Linked DNA regions of Homo sapiens. The protein of the gene in region 2 purifies or fractionates together with the protein of the main gene of each other region. This does not show direct contact. Each region holds a gene or a part of one and is shown on either strand. Other genes may lie near its edges.

Evidence for each region.
Region 1: the proteins of ACKR2 (region 2) and TMEM87A purify together in Homo sapiens (affinity purification with mass spectrometry; one large-scale study listed by BioGRID and IntAct). This does not show direct contact.
Region 3: the proteins of ACKR2 (region 2) and TMEM126A purify together in Homo sapiens (affinity purification with mass spectrometry; one large-scale study listed by BioGRID and IntAct). This does not show direct contact.
Region 4: the proteins of ACKR2 (region 2) and CMTM6 purify together in Homo sapiens (affinity purification with mass spectrometry; one large-scale study listed by BioGRID and IntAct). This does not show direct contact.
Region 5: the proteins of ACKR2 (region 2) and PGAP4 purify together in Homo sapiens (affinity purification with mass spectrometry; one large-scale study listed by BioGRID and IntAct). This does not show direct contact.
Region 6: the proteins of ACKR2 (region 2) and TRPM4 purify together in Homo sapiens (affinity purification with mass spectrometry; one large-scale study listed by BioGRID and IntAct). This does not show direct contact.
Region 7: the proteins of ACKR2 (region 2) and RFT1 purify together in Homo sapiens (affinity purification with mass spectrometry; one large-scale study listed by BioGRID and IntAct). This does not show direct contact.

Annotation. Positions count from the first base shown.
Region 1 is NC_000015.10:42,238,934-42,242,433, forward strand, and holds part of TMEM87A (transmembrane protein 87A isoform 1 precursor), read right to left. Parts: intron 799-3,500; coding exon 737-798; intron 1-736. UniProt on the Homo sapiens protein: Potential monoatomic ion channel gated by mechanical force, implicated in normal touch sensitivity through the generation of mechanically activated currents.
Region 2 is NC_000003.12:42,864,616-42,867,786, reverse strand, and holds the end of ACKR2 (atypical chemokine receptor 2), read right to left. Parts: coding exon 2,130-3,171; 3' UTR 501-2,129; downstream 1-500.
Region 3 is NC_000011.10:85,654,005-85,657,042, forward strand, and holds the end of TMEM126A (transmembrane protein 126A), read left to right. Parts: intron 1-58; coding exon 59-252; intron 253-1,589; coding exon 1,590-1,704; intron 1,705-2,304; coding exon 2,305-2,497; 3' UTR 2,498-2,538; downstream 2,539-3,038. UniProt on the Homo sapiens protein: Protein required for the cotranslational protein quality control in the inner membrane of the mitochondria.
Region 4 is NC_000003.12:32,489,353-32,492,852, reverse strand, and holds part of CMTM6 (CKLF-like MARVEL transmembrane domain-containing protein 6), read left to right. Parts: intron 1-966; coding exon 967-1,143; intron 1,144-3,500. UniProt on the Homo sapiens protein: Master regulator of recycling and plasma membrane expression of PD-L1/CD274, an immune inhibitory ligand critical for immune tolerance to self and antitumor immunity.
Region 5 is NC_000009.12:101,474,922-101,477,173, forward strand, and holds part of PGAP4 (GPI-N-acetylgalactosamine transferase PGAP4), read right to left. Parts: intron 2,249-2,252; 5' UTR 2,172-2,248; coding exon 960-2,171; 3' UTR 1-959. UniProt on the Homo sapiens protein: Golgi-resident glycosylphosphatidylinositol (GPI)-N-acetylgalactosamine transferase that catalyzes the N-acetyl-beta-D-galactosamine transfer from an UDP-N-acetyl-alpha-D-galactosamine to the 4-OH-position of the first mannose of the glycosylphosphatidylinositol (GPI) of a GPI-anchored protein (GPI-AP).
Region 6 is NC_000019.10:49,160,792-49,164,291, reverse strand, and holds part of TRPM4 (transient receptor potential cation channel subfamily M member 4), read right to left. Parts: intron 1-3,500. UniProt on the Homo sapiens protein: Calcium-activated selective cation channel that mediates membrane depolarization. While it is activated by increase in intracellular Ca(2+), it is impermeable to it.
Region 7 is NC_000003.12:53,090,210-53,092,435, reverse strand, and holds part of RFT1 (man(5)GlcNAc(2)-PP-dolichol translocation protein RFT1), read left to right. Parts: coding exon 1-67; intron 68-365; coding exon 366-533; 3' UTR 534-2,226.

The DNA.
Region 1 (3,500 bases), on a different chromosome or scaffold from region 2:
AATTGAAAATATATTAAGGATATTCTGAGACACAGACGTATGCACACATACATGTATGTGCACACATACACACATACACACACAAAATGAAGAGAAGGGAGCTTCATCATTTTGTTAATTTTTTGTTGTTGAGACAGTTTCACTCTGTCGCCCAGGCTGGAGTGCAGTGGCAAGATCTCAGCTCACAGAAGCCTCTGTCTCCTGGGTTCAAGCAATTCTGCTTTAGCCTCCCGAGTAGCTGGGACTACAGGCGCCTACCACCACGCCCAGCTAATTTTTGTATTTTTAGTAGAGATGGGGTTTCACCATGTTGGCCAGGCTGGTCTCAAACTCCTGACCTCAAGTGATCTGCCCGCCTCAGCTTCCCAAAATGTTGGGATTACAGGCATGAGCCAGGGCACCCAGCCTCATTTAGTTAATGTAAGTGGGATCAGAAACAATAGAGTTGTAGTAAAAAGTGCCCCACTATGCATCCTAGAGAGAATGTGAGATGATCTTTGAGGTATTTCCACAGGTCACTGACCCCTTCATTATATGGATAAGAAAATGAGGCACACAAGGGTATACTGACTCTCTCAAAGTCCCAGTCTAATAAGAAATAAATCCAGGACTACAAGCAACATTTTCTGAATTGCACAGGAACAATTCATTAAAAAGAATACTGCCACAAAACATGGGACAATCTTTGAACCCAAAACCATCCAATACTGAGGTTAAATAATATAAAGTCACTTACAATCATCAAGGGATAGTCTTCAAGTGTGAGGTATTCATAGGGACCCTTCACTTCAACAGTCACTGCCAAAACAGAGTCCTCAGAATTAATTTACAGGATGCAGAAATTAAACAAAAATATTGCCTAATATTTGTTTAATGAACTTAGTAAGAATTTCATTGGGTCATTTACTTTTAGGCACTTCAATCCTGGTCAATATTACATTATATTTGTACAGCACTTGGAAAGTCATTAAGTGTCCTCATAGTTCATGCTGTGTCCTGCACAGGTTTCCATGCCTCCACCATAGTCTGAAGTGGGAAGGCTCTTTTGTTTCCATACTCACATCTTAAAAAAGACTAGATTGAATATTTCCTCCACACAGCCTTCTCTGGCTGCCCATCTGGAACAACTCTACACATACTCTAAATTCTAAACATACTTCATATATACTTTTCCTTACAACACATCAGTAAAATATGCCTTACAGGACTTCCTTTTTACATATTGCCATCTTCTTTGTTTTCTATCTTTCCTCACCTGTATTTTCCTATTGCTTTACTATTTTTTCATGGACTCCAATTTTCTTTTATTGCTACATTCATGTATCATTTTCGGAATGAAGGCATTGGAAAAAAACTTAAAAATTTAAATTAACTCACACAAAAAAATATACCATCCCTCATACAAGATTGAAATCTAGCTTCACAATCAGGTACCCTAGATGCTCACTCCAAAATAAAAATAACTCAAAAGTTCAGATGCTTCAAGGCAAAGCTCCATCCAATAAACATAGAATTGAACTTCCCCAAAACCTGCTAGTTAACATTTTTCAAAGAATTTGTTAATAACAAAGTGTTTAATGAGACAGATAAAGTAACAGTAATAACATATATCTGAAAGACATATTTGCCTTAGTAAAGCAAACATTGACTAATTTTAAGATTATCTGTAATTTTAAAAACTATTTCAAGATGGACTATTTTATTATTGTATTGATAAAATAATTTGGATAAATTCTAGGCATAATTAATAAATAAAAATCTGACTTGAGTGGTGATCATCCCTAGAGACAGACTAATAACTGTTCATTCAACAATTCCCTACTAGCTTCTGATATACCATTATTTAAAGTAAACTACATCCAATACTTACATGAAAAAAAGAGCATTCCATAAGAGCAATTATAAAAATTTCAGAGCAGAACTATTATTAAATCTATACCTTCCTAATTCAATAAAAGAGTAAACAAAATAATTAGTAAATACTTGGATCATATTCTTTGCTTACTCTATGCCTTGGTCAGCAAAATATAGCACATGGGCCAAATCTGGCCACCAGCTTTTTCTGTTAATAAAGTTTTATTGGAACACAGCCACATCCACTCATTTACATATTGTCTACAGCTGCCTCTGCACCACCTCGCAGAGTTGGGTAGTTATAATAGAGAAAAAATTTACTACCTGACTCTTTAAGAAAAAAATTTGCTAGCCCCTGCTCTATGCTAAAATATACATTTACTAAGCACTTATTATTTGACAGGCCTATGGAAAACACAGCAGACAGAAACATGAGTAAGATGTTTTCTGCCATCAAATGGGTAACCACCTTGCAGGGGAGAGGGAGTTGACAAGCTACATAGAGAACTATCCCTCTCAGCCAGACTAGAAGGATAAGTAGAGAACTATCCCTCTCAGCCAGACTAGAAGGATAAGTATGTATTTTCCAGAACAAAGTAAAAAGCCTTCTAGGTAGAGGAAATAACATGAACAAAACAGCTGTGAAAATGTGTGGTATATTTAAAGAACAAATATAGTCTGAGACTGCATATAATACCATATAGTAGTGGTGTTTTGACATAAGGCAGCAAAAGGTAAACTGGGACCAGTTGTAAAGAGTTTTATAAACCTTGCTGCAAAATGTAGTCATTTTATAGGCAATGGGGAGCCATCCATTAAAGGTTTCGATGAAGGGAAGAAAAATGATAAAACTGTATTAGTGATGATGTATCTTCTCCATTCCAAAAAAAGACGGGTATTTTTAAAATGAAAAAACAAGGCCAGGTGCGGCGGCTCACACCTGTAATCCCAGCACATTGCGAGGCCAAGGCGGGCAGATTACTTGAAGTCAGGAGTTCAAGACCAGCCTGGCCAACATGGTGAAACTAAAAATACAATCTACTAAATAAAAATCTAGTAGATTTAATAATTTAGCAGATAAATAATAATTTAGTAGGTTGTAAAAACACAATGTACTAAAAATACAAAAATTAGCTAGGTGTGATGGTGCAGGCCAGCAATCCCAGCTACTTGGGAGGCTGAGGCAGCAGAATCACTTGAACCCAGGAGTCAGAGGTTGCAATGAGTCAAGATCACACCACTGCACTCCAGCCTGGGTGACAGAGTGAGACTCTATCTCAAAAAAAAAAAGAAAAAAAAAAAGAAAAAGAAAAAAACAAAAAAGGATATAAGCTCAAAAACAAGACAGACATTTCCAAGAATCAAAACAGAAACTCAAAACAGTGCACGAGGCCGACTCCATGATCATGTTGGGCTCTTGGGCCAGAAGCAGGCTATGGTAGTTGGAAGTGCTGTCCCTATGGGATCTATGGTAGTTGGAAGTACACTACCAATGTACTACGGTAGTACATGGGATCATTGAAGCTAGTAGGTTTCAAAGAAAAAGAAGAGGGACCAGAGCCAGGCTGGATGCATGAAGAAGCTGAAGTAGGGTGGAATAAAGCTTCTCTTCCAGCCTTTTCAAAGAAAGAAGGTTGAAAATGAAC
Region 2 (3,171 bases):
GAGCGTCAGAGATGGGCCAGTTTGTGTTAAATAGGTTGGACAGGTGAGTGAAAGGTGGTATCTGAGCTAAGACCTCAGAAGGTGAGAGAGTGAGCCAAGCAGACAGCTGAGAGGAGAGCAATCCAGGAAGAGGAATCCCCAGGGGGATGTGTCAGGAGTATTTGAGATCAGTTGTGTCTGGAGCACTGGAGGCTGGTGGACATAAGGGCAAAGAGTGTAGCCAGGGTGAGGGCAGATCACATAGGCCTTAAAGGATTACCGTAAGGAGTTGGGCTTGTTAAGTAAAAACTATGGAAGGCCATTGTTTTGGACTAACCTCCTGCACTAGGTCCCAGCTGACCAGACCAAACCAAAATGGAATCTGTCGTATTAAAGTTCCATGTCCTCAAACCAAAACTAAGTTGTTATCTGACCTTTGAGACTCCTGGAGACAGAGTTAACAGCCAAATTCCCAAACATGACAGTTTCAGTTGGCGTAATAATGCAGACAGTAACCATGCTCATGATAATGAAGTTCCCCGTTTTAATCATTATTAAAAAGTAACCTGAAGAAAACTGATGTCAACCACCCTGTTCCGGCCGCATATAGAAAGTAACTTTGAAATGATGAATCTGGCCCTGTGCAGTGGCTCACGCCTGTAATCCCAGCACTTTGGGAGGCTGAGGCAGGCAAATTGCTTGAGCCAAGGGTTTCCAGTCCAACCTGGGTAACATACTGAGACCCTGTCTCCACAAAAAATACAAAAATTAGCCAGGTGTGGTGGTGTGCTCCTGTAGTCCTAGCTACTTGGGGGCTTAGATGGGAGGATCACTTGAGCTCAGGAGGTGGTGGCTGCAGTGAGCCATGATTGTGGGATTGGACTTCAGCCTGGATGACAGAGTGAGATCCTGTCTCAAAAAAAAAAAAATCAATCTTTTTTTTTGTTCTTCATTTCTTTCTGCCTTTGACAGCCCCTTCCTGTCTATAAAACTAACCTCTTCTACCCAGCTCATTGCAGCACTCTCTGTATTTTATGGAGTGAATCTGTTCCTGATTCAATGAGTCTGTTGCCTGATTCTAGAATTGCCAATAACGCTAATTGAGACCTTTAAACTAAATTTGTTGTAATCTGGTGTTTTGACAGGCTGCTGCTCTGAGGGAGGCGGAAGTAAAGGCCGAGAGTATCAGGATCACTCTGGCTGCTAGGTGCAGATGAGATGGGAGGAGAGCAAGAGAGAGGAAGGACAGGGGCCAGTTGGAAAACTATTACAGCAATTCTCCAGCCTGGCCAACATGGTGAAACTCTGTTTCTAATAAAAACACAAAAATTAGGGCCAGGCATGGTGGCTCACACCTGTAATCCCAGCACTTTGGGAGGCCAAGGCGGGTGGATCCCAAGGTCAAGAGATCGAGATCATCCTGGCCAACGCAGTGAAACCCCATCTCTACTAAAATTATAAAAATTAGCTGTGCGTGGTGGCACGCGCATGTAGTTCCAGCTACTCAGGAGGCTGAGGCAGGAGAATCGCTTGAATCCGGGAGGTGGAGGTTGCAGTGAGCCGAGATCGCGCCATTGTTGTCCAGCCTGGGCAACAAGAGTGAGACTCCGTCTCAAAAAAAAAAAAAAAAGAAAAGAAAGAAAGAAAGAAAAAAAATACAAAAATTAGCCAGGCATGGTGGCAGGTGCCTATAGTCCTGGCTACTTGGGAGGCTGAGGCATGAGAATTGCTTCAACCCAGGGGGAGGAGGCTACAGTGAGCGGAGATCTCGCCACTGCATTCCAGCCTGGGTGACAGAGCAATAGAGCAAGACCCTGTCAGAAGGAAGGAAGGAAAGTAGGAAGGGAGGAAAGGAGGAAGGGAAGAAGCGAGGGAGGGAGGGAGGGAGAGAGGGAAGGAAGGAAGGAAGGAAGCAAGGAAGGAAGGAAGAAAGATTGTAGCAATTCAGAAAAGAAAGCGTGGTATCCTGGAAGCAAGTGAAGAAAGTGGAGGAAGAAGGCGGGGCGAGCAAATGCTGCTGATGGCTGAGAACTGAGAACTGACCACTGGGTTTAGCAACACAGTCACTGAGGCCCCTGGAGAGAGCACTTTGAGTGGACACCCAATTGAGCTGGTTCCCATCTGTTCCCACCAGACCAAAATTTGGTCACTCAGGCTGATTTATTCCCCACATCCTCCTTGTTAGGGTAGTTCTCAGACTGCCTCTCTCCAAGGTCATTCATGCCAGTCATTTCCTCTTGGGCAGTAAGTATGCTGCTCTCAGAACAGCTGGATAATGAGGCCTGGGCAGTGCCAGGTGCCAGGTGCCATCCAAGCACGGCAGCCAGGAAAGCCTTCAGGTACTGGCGGAAGCGGTGACTGGAGAAGGCATACAGGATGGGGGAAAAGCAGCAGTGAAGGAAGGCGATGCTCTCTGTTACCTGGAGTGCGTAGTCTAGATGCTGGCTGACCTCACAGTTCCCGAATACTTGCAGGTCCAACAGCGTATGCAGAAACAAGGTGAGATTGTATGGGAACCATAGCACGAAGAAGGCCACCACCAAGGCTGCAGCTATTTTTAAAGCCCGGCCCTGGCCTGCGGGCCTCAGCCTCACCAAGACACAACCAATACGGGAGTAGAAGAAGATCATGGCAAGGAGTGGAAGGAGAAACCCTAGGAGGTTCTGCTGGAAGCGGAGGAAGAGCTTCCAAATGGTCCCATGCCCGCCGAAATCTGCGTGGCAGTTCCACACACCCTTGGGATTTTCATGTGTCTGTACAAAGACCATATCAGGGATGGAGACGGCCAGGGACACAGCCCATACTATGGTAGCAAGGAGCAGGCTCTTGGCCCGGGTCCTCAGCCTGTGGTAGGGCTGAGCATGAACGATCTCCAGGTACTTGTCCAGGCTCATGCAGCTAATGAAAAAGATGCCACTGTAAAAGTTAATAGTATAAAGAGTGCTCACCATCTTGCACAAGAAACTCCCGAAGACCCAATGCCAGGCCACGGAGATGCCCCAGAAGGGCAGTGTCACCAGAAACAGAAGGTTGGAGATGGCCAGATTCAGCAGATAGATCTCAACCATCCGCCTGCGAGGCACGTAACGGAGCAAGACCATGAGAAGAAGGAGGTTCCCGCTGAGGCCCAACACAAAAATCAGGCTATAGAAGACTGGGAGGAAGACTTTGCCAAAGGACACCACTGCATCC
Region 3 (3,038 bases), on a different chromosome or scaffold from region 2:
GGGAAAGCTCACACACACAATAATGCCAAAGAAAAGTTCTTTCTTCTCACCCTTTCAGGAATCTACTTGAAAATGGATCGGTTTATGTTGGATTAAATGCTGCTCTTTGTGGCCTCATAGCAAACAGTCTTTTTCGACGCATCTTGAATGTGACAAAGGCTCGCATAGCTGCTGGCTTACCAATGGCAGGGATACCTTTTCTTACAACAGACTTAACTTACAGATGTTTTGTAAGTTTTCCTTTGAATACAGGTAAATTCTACTTCACTATCACCAAAGAGTTTGCCTTAGTATATGTTATTTGCAGCTTTAGTCCATACTTATTAATATCAAGTAGCTGTATGCTGTAATGCAGTTAAGATTAAATCTTGCTAGCCTATATAATGTGGCAAATAATTCATATTAGTATGGTCTACCAACCAAGATGCACATACACAGCAGTTCTAAATACTTTTTCTTTAATTGAGATGGAGTTTTGCTCTTGTTGCCCAGGTTGGAGTGCCCTGGCGCAATCTTGGCTCACTGCAACCTCCACCTTCTGGGTTCAAGCAATTCTCCTGCCTCAGCCTCCTGAGTAGCTGGGATTACAGGTGCCCACCACCATGCCCGGCTAATTTTTTGTATTTTTAGTAGAGACAGGGTTTCACCATGTTGGCCAGGCTGGTCTCAAACTCCTGACCTCAGGTGATCCACCCGCCTTGTCTTCTCAAAGTGCTGGGATTACAGGCGTGAGCCACTGCACCCGGCAATACTTCCCTTTTTCTAACATATCTTTCTCACAGTGCTCATTTAGAGTAAGAAATATTTGGAAATCCATATATACATATATATGAAAATTATATATATGGAAATATTATATATATACAAATGTATATAAATAATATGTTGGCTACCTTAGATTTTTTATTTATATTTTATAGAGAAGTTCCTTAAAGGGGGAAAATATTTTTATGGGAATAACTCTTTATACAGTAAATCTCTTAAAGCACTAAATGCATATACATTTATCAAATACATGGAGATTTGATTTCCTTTTGAAAATCTACCATGTGTGCTGAATACTTTGAGTACAGTTAATCATAAAAAAAACTTTTGATTAATTATTTCAAATAAAAATATTACCATGGGTGCTAGGGAAGGCAGTCCATCTAAATTTTGTTAAGTGCTGCTCCAAATTTGTTTAAATTTGACGAGTATTTTGTTTTAATTCCCATGACCAGTGGAAACAATTTCTATGATCAAGGAAGACCTATCGCCCATTTAATTGAACAGACTGAGTGAAAATATTAGCCTAGGTCTGTTGATAAAAAACAAGGCAGAAAGCTAGCAGTAGCCCAAACCATGAGATTATTATATCTAAGTTGAGAACAAATTAGAGAACTTTTTTTCCTAAAATAGTTTTACCAATTATTCCTAGCTATTTTAAGTTACTCATAGATGTAATTATACCTTTTAACAGGCTTTGTACAATTACATTTGATATATTACCTGAAAAATACCTGTGATACACAAAAGAGGATCTTACATTCTTTAAATCATGTTTGCTTGACTATCATGACCTTCATTTCTATGACTAATTTATTTCCTAGGTGATTTGGATTGTGAAACCTGTACCATAACACGGAGTGGACTGACTGGTCTTGTTATTGGTGGTCTATACCCTGTTTTCTTGGCTATACCTGTAAATGGTGGTCTAGCAGCCAGGTAGGAAATAAAAAACTTTTTATAATATGTGATTACCTATAAAACTCACAACTTAAAGCAGCAAATATATTTTGTTTTTAAGGCATTTAGACCAAAGGCAATGTTACCCTCTTGATTAGAAGTTAGCAAGACCTGTTTTTTCTTATAATGAAATTCTACTTATCAAGAATTTCAAACAGTTATACTTGGTGTGTAGTTAGGCTATTAACCTTAATTTGTGTACTGAATACTAAACTAACTACAAAGCTGCAAACAGTATTATGCATGAAACTTCTATCATATAAACAATTATCTTGGATGAGTTTGAACACTTGCACTAAAGGAAAATTCCATCAGAAAATGTCTAGCTGTTATATTAGCCTTCTATTCTAAAATAATTCTGGCTATTCTCTGTTGAACTCTTGCATCAGCAATCTATGCTATAGCCTTGAAGCAAACTGGATAAAGAAACAAAAGTTTTTAGGATTAATAGACACTGAAGACCTTTACTTTAATATTCAGTTTTATCTTAAGACTTCTAGGACTAATATGTATCACAGATGGGTTTGCCATTTGATGCAACAATCTTTTCTATTGAACTATCTCAATGTTTTCTTACAGGTATCAATCAGCTCTGTTACCACACAAAGGGAACATCTTAAGTTACTGGATTAGAACTTCTAAGCCTGTCTTTAGAAAGATGTTATTTCCTATTTTGCTCCAGACTATGTTTTCAGCATACCTTGGGTCTGAACAATATAAACTACTTATAAAGGCCCTTCAGTTATCTGAACCTGGCAAAGAAATTCACTGATTTTAAACAAATATGTAAACAAAAATAAAATGGTAAAAACAGTTTATGTCTAATGTTATGTCTAATGTTATGCATAAACATAGACTTGTAATTTATCACGAGGTATAATTCTGGGACCTACAACAAAAGGCTACACAGGGCAACAAAAGGCTGAATCTAAGTAAAAGCTACCCACTTAAACAAGTTTAACTTCACGAGTTTGCCCAGTATTGTCTCTTCTACCTTGCTTGTTCTACCTTAGGCGTTGAGTTTGGTCTGTAACACAAGAGGAAAAAGTAACTATATAGTATTTTACACTGAAGACTTCATAATGACAAACAGGAATAAAAAATGAAAAAATATCTATCAATATACTATACCAAATGTTACTCACAATTCACTTTCTCAATTCAAATTATTAATCCATAGATTCTTAGAACTGATTTAACAACCTTCCTCAAATCAATCATCTTCTTGAGTCATTCAGGCTCAGCTTCAGCTATTATGATATAGACCTACCTACTTCGAGTCACCTTATTTAGAAAGCTGTATTTTTAGTTTA
Region 4 (3,500 bases), about 10 Mb from region 2:
TCGTCAGTAGACCCATAAAGAAAATACTCACTTCAGCAGATTGTTAATAAATGTGCGTTTTTAAGTTAAAATGTTTAAGGTACACATGTGTTATCTTGTGTTCCATATTATTTGTATGCATCTTGTCTGATATGAGCTTTTGCATCTTGTCTGATAAGAGCTTCTGCTGCATCTCTCAGTGATTGCCACTCTTCTCTATTGCTGCTCCCTAGTCGCTATTATTTGCCCTGATTTCCTACATCAGCTTCCCAGTTGGATGTCCGCCCCAAGGTTTGCCTTACCTCTGGTCCCTTCTCCATATTGTAGCCAGTGAGAACTACTGAAAGCATACACCTGATCATTGTCAACCTTTACTTTAAAATCCAGACTCTTAATTAACGAGGACATTTAGATCTGGCCTCAGCTTACCTCTCTAGCCTCATATACTAATTTTTGTGCTGCCATTCTCTTCCCTTAAACTCTATACTTAAGCCATGTTGATTTGACTCACTTTGACAGTTAAGTTGGAGGTCGGGGTGTGTGTTGTCTGTATGTTGGGTCAGAGGGCAGGTGCCATGCTCCCTCATTTCTGGCCTTTCTATATACTGCTTCTCTGCTGGGAATTTCTTTCCTTAATCTTTCATCCCCCAAACTGACTCTGTTCTTCAGGTCTCAGCTTTCTCCTTCAGGAAGCCTTTCCTGACCCCGCAGTTGAGCGTCTCTCCTGTGTGCTTTTATAACAATATTATATATTTCCCCTTTGCTGGCATTAGTACACGATAGGTTAATTAATTCTTTATTTACCTGTATTTCCTTCAAGGCGGCCAAACTGTAAGTTCTGTGTAGATAAGGTTTATTCATTAATCTTGTTTGCCATAGTCTCCTCATTGTAAATATTTGAGTAAACGTATTATTCAGAAACAGCTTTCTAAATACTGTAGATTCTCTGAAAAAACACTTAAGTAAAATGTTTTGCTTCATTTGTAGTTGCTGTCTCTGCTGGCCTTCATCTGTGAAGAAGTTGTATCACAATGTACTTTATGTGGAGGACTTTATTTTTTTGAGTTTGTAAGCTGCAGTGCCTTTCTTCTGAGTCTCCTTATACTGATTGTGTATTGCACTCCATTTTATGAGAGAGTTGATACCACAAAAGTAAAATCATCGGTAAGCATGAGAAAATATCATCCCTGTATTAATAGCTGTTTTGTAATCTGGCATAATTTTATTGTTCAAAGCAGTAATGTTTTCAAAACTCAGCAACATGAAAAGACAGTATCCCTTGTTCCAACTCGCTCTGCTTCTAAGCACCTCATTTTTTCCTACCAAGGGGATGGTAGAGAGGGAAAGTGAGATTAGAATGAGAGTGACAGACACTGCCAATAGTTTACAGTTATTGGTGGTTTAATGTAATTCACATTAGACTTAAAAAAGCCTAGGATTTTGTCACTTCTGATTTCTCACTTTTGAGTGTCACTCATTGGTTCTACAATTATTAATTGTGTGCCTTTATTATATGCCAGGCATTTATATGCTAGACATTGGAGATAGAGTAATGAACTAATGTGAAATATTTCTGGAGCTTTAAAATAAAACAACATTTAAAGCTTAAAGCTTCAGTGATTGGGGAAAATAAAACAACATGTAATTCTTCCTATATTTTGCTTTAATGGTATTATGAAAAGTTGTCTATAAGTGAATTAAGAATGCATTTGTTCCTGTGTTAGTTTGCTAGGAGCAGAATCCTGTTAGAACCAATGCCCTACCATCTTGAGGTGCTGTCATGGCTAATGCCATCACTATAGGAATTTCTATGACAATGACAACAGGACTCATTTGTTTTATGAAATATATATTAAGAGGATACAGATAATCCTTAGAATTTTTGTTAATTATATTTGTAGTCTTTGGACATTTTTCTTTTTTACAGATTAATATGCCATAAGATTTGGACTAGGGAAAAGTTCTCAAGTGTCTGAGCTGGTTGATTTATAGTTTGAATGTGTAAAAAAAAATGTATATATTCCAAATTCTGGCTGGAAAAATTTATATTAAAAAAATTACAGATTGAAATCATTTTGTCATTTCTTAACAGTGAAACAATATCACCATAAAAATATTTTTAGAAATGTTTAGTTTTTATTTTAATGCTGCATCTGTAGTGTTTAAAGCACACTGATCATTTTGACAAGAAATGGTATTATAATATTGTCCAGTGTAGTATAATGGTGTAACGTAAAAAAAGTAAAACCTTTATTATATCAAACTTGAGCATTTAAAAAGTCATTTTAGAGTAAATACTGGTTTAAAAATACTGAGAAAAAAGAAAAATTAGTCCATCCTAAAATAGCTTTTGTATTATTTTGCTGTATTCCTTTCAAGTCTTTTTATTCCATTCATAGTTTTAAAATTTAAAATATTTGTAATCATAGAACATATATTCTACTTTTTACCTAATATAAGGATTTCATGTTTGTTTGCAGGGTTTCAAAATCACTTTTTACTGTCTGCATATTAATACACTTAGGTTTTAAATATTTTTTCATGCAAGAGAGGTTTTCTGTTTTAGAGGAATGTGTTTTGAGTGTGTGGTACTGGTGGTGCCTAAAGAAGAATAACTTTTTTTTTTTTTTTGAGAAGTCTTGCTGTGTTACCCAGGCTGGAGTGCAGTGGCGCAATAGCAGCTCACTGCATCTTCCACCTCCCGGGTTCAAACGATTCTCCTGCTTCAGCCTCCCGAATAGCTGGGATTACAGGCGTGTGCCACCACACCCAGCAAATTTTTGTACTTTTAGTAGAGATGGGGTTTCGCCATATTGGCCAGGCTGGTCTCAAACTCCTGACCTCAGGTGATCCGCCCACCTCGGCCTCCCAAAGGAATAATATTTTTTAAGAGAGAATGTCTTCTATCCCATGCTATTGCAGTCGGAGTCTATTAAGAACAACAGTAGCCAACATTTTTGGGACGTTTACATTTATTAGTGGTATAGCTCAGATTTGAACTCAGGTAGACTGGCTCTAGAACCCGTTTATTGAACACTACATTATGGTCTAAAAATGATTGTCTTGTTTCAATTAACTTGAATGTATTCCAAATATTAGTAAATAGAATTTTATATTTATATGTAATAAATTTGAAATAATCAAAAGGATTAAAAAATAAAGTACTACAGGGAAACACCTTTTAGAAGCAGAGAAAACCTCTTTTTTTTTTTTTCTTTTTTGAGACAGAGTTTCGTTCTTGTCACCCAGGCTGGAGTGCAATGGCACGATCTCGGCTCACTGCAACCTTGTGCTTCCTGGGTTTAAGTGATTCTCCTGCCTCAGCCTCCCAAGTAGCTGGGATTACAGGTGCCTGCCACCACACCCAGCTAATTTTTGTATTTTTAATAGAGATAGGGTTTCACCATGTTGGCCATGGTGTTCTTGAACTCCTGACCTCAGGTGATCCACCTGTCTTGGCCTCCCAAAGTGCTGGGATTACAGGTGTGAACCACCGTGCCCGGCAAGAAAACCTCTTACAT
Region 5 (2,252 bases), on a different chromosome or scaffold from region 2:
GTCACGTCGTTAGGCCATGGCAGAGATCTGAAATAAAAGGTCAGGTCTTCTGACTTCAGTCCATGATTTTTTTTTTTTTTTTTCTATAACATCATGCTACCTAGAAGAAAAAGAAATGAAGGTAAGCAGTCAGCCAGGAAAGTCAGGAAAAATGATATGCTACTTGTAAAGAGCTCCCCTATATTGTATCATTCTGAAATGTCCAATTTTCAAAGAGTCAGAGTAGTACAGAAATGTTCAATGTTAAATCACTACTCAACATAAGCAATCTGACTTTGATGGTTCACAAGCTCTTCCAGATCTTGTCGTGCCTTAAAGTTCTCACTAACAATATCAATTATCAGTGCACTACAGATATATAGGAAAAGAAAATCCCAGGTAACAGAAAAGCCAGATCACCTGCCTCCAAGATGCCGGGCACTGCACGGCTTTTATCAGTTTTTATTACATCAGGTCAAGGAAACAAATGGAATCTATCCACATGGTCCTGCCTCGTTGGGCATATATTCTAAACATACATCCATTTTCATACCCAATGAGAAAGAACTCAATTCCAAAGGATCTCACCTTTCACAAAATTCTACCCTTAAGATCCTAAAACAGTCATATCACTGTGCACAAAATTTTTGGCAGTCACAAGCTCTAACACAAAGCAGAGCTTAAAAACAAATGGAGAATATAATCAGTGTTCAAATGCACCCTCACTGGGTGGGTCAGACTGCATGAGGCAGTGTGGCTGTGTGGAGGGAGAGGTCCGGACCTGTGGCAAACTGCTGCTCCTGCCAGGAGGCTACCAAAGCCAAGGCTCTTAACATATTGAGGTTCCTCAGCTGCCCCAGTGCCTATATCTCTAACAACAGTAAACAGTGAAATACCTGCAGGCAACCATGTCTAAATAAAGAGATAAATATTTGAATCTTCAAGAAGTGGCCAACTTCAGAAAGGCATCTCTTGGCACCCTAGAGGAGACTGGGATGAAAGTTGTACCGGAGACTGGAGAAGAGCCCGATGTGTTTCACGAGGTTCGGCTCCACTACATAGGCCCTCTCTCCCTTGGCCCTCAACAGCGAGTACAGTGCCATGTCCTTGCCAAAGCCCTTGTGGCAGTACACTTGGGACAGGTAGGTGAGGGTCCGGCGGGCCGCAGGTGCCGGGAAGAGCATGGCTGGGGTGCAACACTGAGAGGCAGGAACCACACTGTACAGGGAAGGACTCAGCCGCCGCAGTTCCAGGAAATAGTGCCGACCCACCAGCTCCACCAGACCCATGCTATACAGGGAGAAGAAGAGCATTACAGGCCAGCTAAACCCTGGGCGGCTGGCAAACCTCATGTATATCCAGGTTAGTAAGGGCCCCAGCAACATGCCTACACCAACCCATTCCAGGATCCGCATGGGCTCTGGATTGATGTAGTGCTGGAGCCTCTCGGGGTGATACAGCTTGAGATAAAGGGCATCTCTGAGATGTGGCTCAGAGAAGCGAGCCCGCAGAAGGTGCTCCAAGACTGGGAAGATCTGCTCTTCTGGTACAGCATCGTCTTCTACCATCAGGACGTAGTCTGGGTTGTAGGTCTGCAGGGATGACTCCAGGCAATAGACATAGTCCTGCTTCTCTTTCTCAAACGAGTTGGTCGAAGGGTCATCACCATAATCATCCTCAGTGCCCTCATAGCGATTGGCCACAGGGACATACTTGGAGAGCAACTTGGCATCAAAATGGCTCACACTACGCTCCACGTTGCACAGGAAGAGTTGGTGCCCCTCGCACTGGGGGCCACATTGCTGAAGAAGCCGGTGGAACTGGGACACAACCTGCAGGACGTAGTGGAAGCCAGGCTGCCTGTCCACAGTGATGATGGTGATCACCAGCCAGGGCCGGGGGGTGGCCTGCCAGACAATGGGCACTGAGCCATTGGCAGAGGGAAGCTCCTCAAAATAGTGGAGGGCAGCCTCACCCTCTTTCAAGCTTTGCTGCAGGAACTCTTGGCTCATTTGGTTCAGATGCCAATGGCGCAGATAGAAGTAAGAGTGTAGAAGTCGGTGACAGGCCAGGGGGGCCAGCAGGCCAAACGTCACCACTGTTAGGATGAAGAGCTGGACAGCAGTGCTGCCCCAGGAGAGTCGCCGCAGCCTCCGGAGGAGCATGGCAGCTGGAGAGGTTGAAGTGCTCATGAGGTCAACTTTTGTTCATGTCTGGTCCCAAGAAAAAACCATCCTGGAACTCAGGCCAGAGTCATCAGAAATCAAACCTAA
Region 6 (3,500 bases), on a different chromosome or scaffold from region 2:
GGGAGGGAGGGAGGGAAAGAGAGAGAAAGAAAGAGAAAGAGAGAAAGAAAGAAAGAGAGAGAGAAAAGAAAAGAAAAGAAAGAGAAAGGAAGAAAGAAGGAGAAAAATGTATCTAAATTCTTTGTTCCAGATTCCAGGAGTTCAGATATCAGGGGAGACCTGTATTTACACAAACCTAGTGAGCAGATTTAAGAGCAATTTTACAGAAGGGATAGCAGAGGTGCTACAAGGATTTGGCAAAAGCCGTAAAGACACTAAAAGAACGGCTAACTGATCCACACATGGGATGAACCAAACACACTTAGGCCAGGTCCTGGCACAGTGAGAACTACAATAAAGTGTCTTCTTCATTCCTGAGTCTACCTCCAGGGCCCTGGCATGCCTCAGTTTACCGACTTTGTCCGTTCACCCATTTCAGCTCCATCCTTGAATCCCCTAGTTCCCCTGCAGCTACTTCCAACACCTGCAGCTACTTCCCAGAAAGTTTGCTCTTCTGAGCAAAACTTCAAGGACGGCTGGGCACAATCCAAGCACTTTGGGAGGTCAAGGCAGAAGGACTGCTTGAGCCCAGGAGTTTGAGAACAGCCTGGGCAATAGAGCGAGACCCCATCCCTACAAAAAAAATTGTTTTAATTAGCCAGGTGTGGTGGTGCACGCCTGTGGTTCCAGCTACTCAGGAGGCTGTAGCAGGAGGATCACTTGAGCTCAGGAGTTCAAGGCTGCAATAAGCCATGATCACACCACTGCAGTTCAGGCTAGGCAACAGAGCAAGACCATGTCACTAAAAATAAGAAATAAGGCCGGGCATGGTGGCTCATGACTGTAATCCCAGCACTTTGGGAGGCCAAGGCGGGCGGATCATGAGGTCAGGAGTTCGAGACCAGCCTGGCCAACATAGTGAAACCTTATCTCTACTAAAAATACAAAAATTAGCCGGGCATGGTGGTACGCGCCTGTAGTCCCAGCTACTCAGGAGGCTGAGGCAGGAGAATCACTTGAACCTGGGAGACGGAGGTTGTGATGAGCAGAGATTGTGCCACTGCACTCCAGCCTGGGCAACAGAATGAGACTCTGCCTCAAAAAAAAAAAAAAATAATAATAATAAAATAAAAGCTCTTCACGGAATAGTCTGGAGCTTGTACTGTCCAATGTGATAGCTGCATGGGTTCTTTGTAGCCATGGAGCTCTTTCTGTTCTAATAAGTTAAAATTAAATCAAATAAAAAATTCAGGTCAAGTGCAGTGGTTCATGCCTGTAATCCCAGAACTTAGGGAGGCCAAGGTGGGCGGATCACCTGAGGTCAGGACTTTGAGACCAGCCTGGCCAACATGGTGAAACCCTGTTTCTACTAAAAATACAAAAATCAGCTTGGCATGGTGGCGGGTGCCTGTAGTCCCAGCTACTCGGGAGGCTGAGGCAGGAGAATGGCATGAACCCGGGAGGCGGAGGTTGCAGTGAGCCAAGATTGCACCACTGCACTCCAGCCTGGGCGACAGAGCGAGACTCCACCTCAAAAAAAAATTCAGTTTCTCAGGTACAATGGCCATATTCCAAGTGCCCAGTAGCCCCCTGTGGCCAGGACTGCCATATTGGATGTAGACATAGAACGTTTCCAAAATCGTGGAAAATTCTGACATTCAGTGCTAGGAGCCATTCCTTCTGCACAGCTTGCCTCCTACACTCTTTCCTCGGTGGAGCCACAGAAACTGAAATAAATTGTTTTTTTGTTTGTTTGTTTGTTTTGTTTTGTTTTGAGATGGAGTCTCGCTCTGTCTCCCAGGCTAGAATGCAGTGGTACGATCTCAGCTCACTGCAACCTCTGCCACCTGGGCTCAAGCGACTCTCGTGCCTCAGCATCCTGAGTAGCTGGGATTACAGGCATGTGCCACAGTACCTGGCTAGTTTTTGTATTTTTAGTAGAGATGGGGTTTTACCACATTGGCCAGGCTGGTCTCAAACTCCTGACCTCAAGTGATCAGCCCACCTCGGCCTCTCAAACTGCTGGGATTACAGCTGTGAGTCACTGTGCCTGGCCTGAAATTGTTCTTGATAAAAATCATCAATTTCCTGCCTGGCTCCATATACAACGGCCCTTATTCAGGTTTCATCTGACTGTATCACAAGTGGCCCTGGCTACAGCTGAAAGGCTCTCATTCTGGAAACCCTCTCCTTGGCAGGATACCCCTGCCCCTCTGGCCTTCCTCCCCGCCCCGGCTGCTTCATGCCTGACTTGTTTGTGGCTTTCTCTTGCTTTTCACCTCCCTTGAGTGTAGGTGTTCCCAGTGCAAGCCTTCCCTACATGATTCTCAAACCCAATGTGTGCAGAGGCCAGTCAAGTAACTCAACAGAAAGAAGTAGCCAGGGCCAGGAGCAGTGGCTCACACCTGTAATCCCAGCACGTTGGGAGGCCCAGGTGGGCAGATCACTTGAGGTCAGGAGTTCGAGATCAGCCTGGCCAACATGGTGAAACCTTGTCTCTACTAAAAGTACAAAAATTAGCCAGGCGTGATGGTGGGTGCCTGTAATCCCAGCTACTCGGGGGGCTGAGGCAGGAGAATCGCTTGAACCCAGGAGGCAGAGGTTGAAGTGAGCCGAGATCGCACTACTGCACTCCAGCCTGGGTGATAGAGCGAGACTCCGTCTCAAAAAAAAAAAAGAGGTAGCCGGGTATGGTGGCTCTCGCCTGTAATTCCAGCACTTTGGCAGGCAGAGTGAGGTGGGAGGCTCACTTGAGTCCAGGAGTTGGATACCAGCCTGGTCTGGTATCAAAGGGAGACCCGGTTTCTACAAAAAATTTTAAAATTAGCCAGGCATGGTGGTGCATGCCTGTGGTCCCAGCTACTCCGGAGGCTCATGTGGGAGGATCGCTTGAGCCCAGCAGGTCAAGGCTGCAGTGAACCATGATCGTGCCACTCCAGCCTGGACAACAGAGCAAGACCCTGTCTCAAAAAAAAAAAAAAAAAAAAAAGAGAGAGAGACAGAAGACAGATATTTTTAAATGCTCTTCTAAACACACACACACACAAACACACGCACACAATTGGCTATAGAATTGCCAGTTTGCAACTCCCCTGACTTTACACGTTGTTTTCCCTGTGACGTCTTACCTACTTCCAGTTTCAATTACCAGCTACAACTCGGACCTCTCAGATTCTGGACATTAGTCCAGACCTTTCCCAATCTCAGTCCCCACATGCCCCTCGGTCCCCCTAGGCCGCTCATATGCACAGATTCCCACATTGCACTCAGCGACATTTCCCAAACCTGCTTGCCCTCCTGAGCTCTCCATCTCAGGGACAGCCCCACTGTGTCCCAGTCAGCAGAGCATACGTCCCGGAGCCATCCACCGATGGCGGCACCCCCTCTCTCCCTCATCACCCTCATCAAGCCCCAAGCTCTGCCTTCCTGCCCCCTGAGTCTTTGCCCCATGCCCTCCTCTCTGTGTCCCGAAAGCCCTGACCTGGCTCAGGCCACTACCCCTCCCGCTCAGACGCTCTCTA
Region 7 (2,226 bases), about 10 Mb from region 2:
CCTGCACCTATCGCCAGTCCTGCTCGGGACATTTGCCCTCAGTGGTGGGGTTACTGCTGTTTCGGAGGTGAGACTCCCTGAGCCATCATGCCACATGCTTCTGCAGCTGCCCCGCTGTCTCTCCCGCTAGGCCTCCTCTTCCCAGGTTTTTGCCTCCTCCTGTCCCCTCCCCAGGCCTCTAGGGCAGCATCTTCTGATAATGTGACAAGAGAATGTTGCCAATGGGGAAACAATGGACCTGCAGTATGGCTGTTATGCCTTTTATCTGACTTAGAAGCTGGAACCACAGCTGTCTTCCCTGGCTGGTCCCAGAGGAAGGAGGTATAGACTGAGGAACAGGCACTGACAATGGTTTCTTTCCCCAGGTATTCCTCTGCTGTGAGCAGGGCTGGCCAGCCAGACTGGCACACATTGCTGTGGGGGCCTTCTGTCTGGGAGCAACTCTCGGGACAGCATTCCTCACAGAGACCAAGCTGATCCATTTCCTCAGGACTCAGTTAGGTGTGCCCAGACGCACTGACAAAATGACATGACTTCAGGGAAGCCTGGACACCCGAGGCACCTGGACCAGCTATGGGTAGTTCTGTGGGTGGAACACATTCTGTGTAAGAGCCCCACTGAGGGCTCTGCAGCGGAGTGACAGCAACCCCAGAGATGAGGCACCAGAGAGTGCCACTGCATGAGACACCTGTGACCATTCGAAGTCTGAAATGCGGGGGGGGAGTTTCATTTTTAAGTGAAGACCAAAAGCCCTTTAAAAATAATAGTTTTTTATCATTTTATAGTAATCAGCATTTTCTCTTTTACTAATATACTCATTCCTTTTGCGTATGATTGGCCTTTGGAGCTACATGCTCCAACAAACTATATCTTAATTGTTAACTGTTAATAATTATCTGGCCCAGAAAAAGAGATGCAGTGATTTTACCCTTCACAGGAATATTGAACTTCTTCTGTAAAAGAGAGAGAGAAACCTCTCTCTCTCATGCACCACATGGAAACAGAGTGTGGCCCTGAAGTTGTGGCTTTCTTTGTGTCAAAACTGTGGTCTGAGTTTTTAGAGAAGGAAAAATGCTACTCAGTGAGAAATCCAAGAAATGAAACCAGGAAGGTTTTCAGATCACATTTCCCAGAGTGAGTTCGGGAGAATCTTGCCTGTCGTGATCACACTGTTCCCCGCCGCCCCAGGTCAGCACATACTTGACCCAGAGTGGGCTCTCAGGATTTGTTGATTGAAGGGTGGGTGAAAGCTGGCTGGAGACTCCTGGCCTGGCCACCTGCAAGAGGCGGACTTTGAAGAAAACTGTGATCCAGTTGAGCCACTTTGTCCCTGAGGGGAATGCTGCTTTGCAGCTTTCTGTAACTTCTCACATGGGAATTGCACTGGTGACAGATAAGGTTTAACAGATGTACTTTTTTATCCTCAGAATAAGACAAGGCAAACTCTATATGGCTAGTATTACTGAGTCAGGTCCCTCCCGTTGACCCATTAATTCCAGCATTGATCAATACAACCAAATTCCAGCCCCAGGACAAGAGTGGCAGGCATGGGGGCCTGGTACTCCAGGCTACAGTGTGAGCCCAGGTGTTCTGCACCTTGCAGCCTGCACACTGCAGGTGAAATCATGAGCAGTGTTCTGGAGTGTGAAGTGTTTTTATTTTTTTGTTAATGTATTAATTCCTTTTAGATATTAACCCCCCTCAGAACTATATGCACAAACTATAACTTGGATGTTAATAATCCTGTCACTCAGTGCCCCAAACCTTCTGTGTCTACACCTAGAGAGAGGGCCAGTAAGGGCAACTCCTATCATGCATTAAAATGCATGTATTTAAATCTGCTTGCCCAGAGCCAGTACCCAGGGGCTAAGGATTAAGACCTGTCAGTACACCAAGACTGGGGCCCAGTCACCTGGCAGGTTTTTATCTACTCAGAGGGAGAATGCTTTGCACTAAGTGGGAGAAAAGCAGCTAAATGCAAGGTGTCCTGAGCAATTAGAGGACCTCCAAAGCATGGCCTCAGTCATGCCTTCATCGGGCAAGGTCAGGCCAGCTCAGAAAAATGGATGGTCCCATAGGGTCAAGTGGAGCACACACGGAAGGCAGTCCTCCTTCCCTCCCATGTCCTTTCTCTGTCCCTGGCATCCACAGAAAGGGACCTTCAGTCCTCATGAGCTGCTTCTCTGCAGCTGCTGATCACCCTCCCGGAACCCTGCACCTATCCCG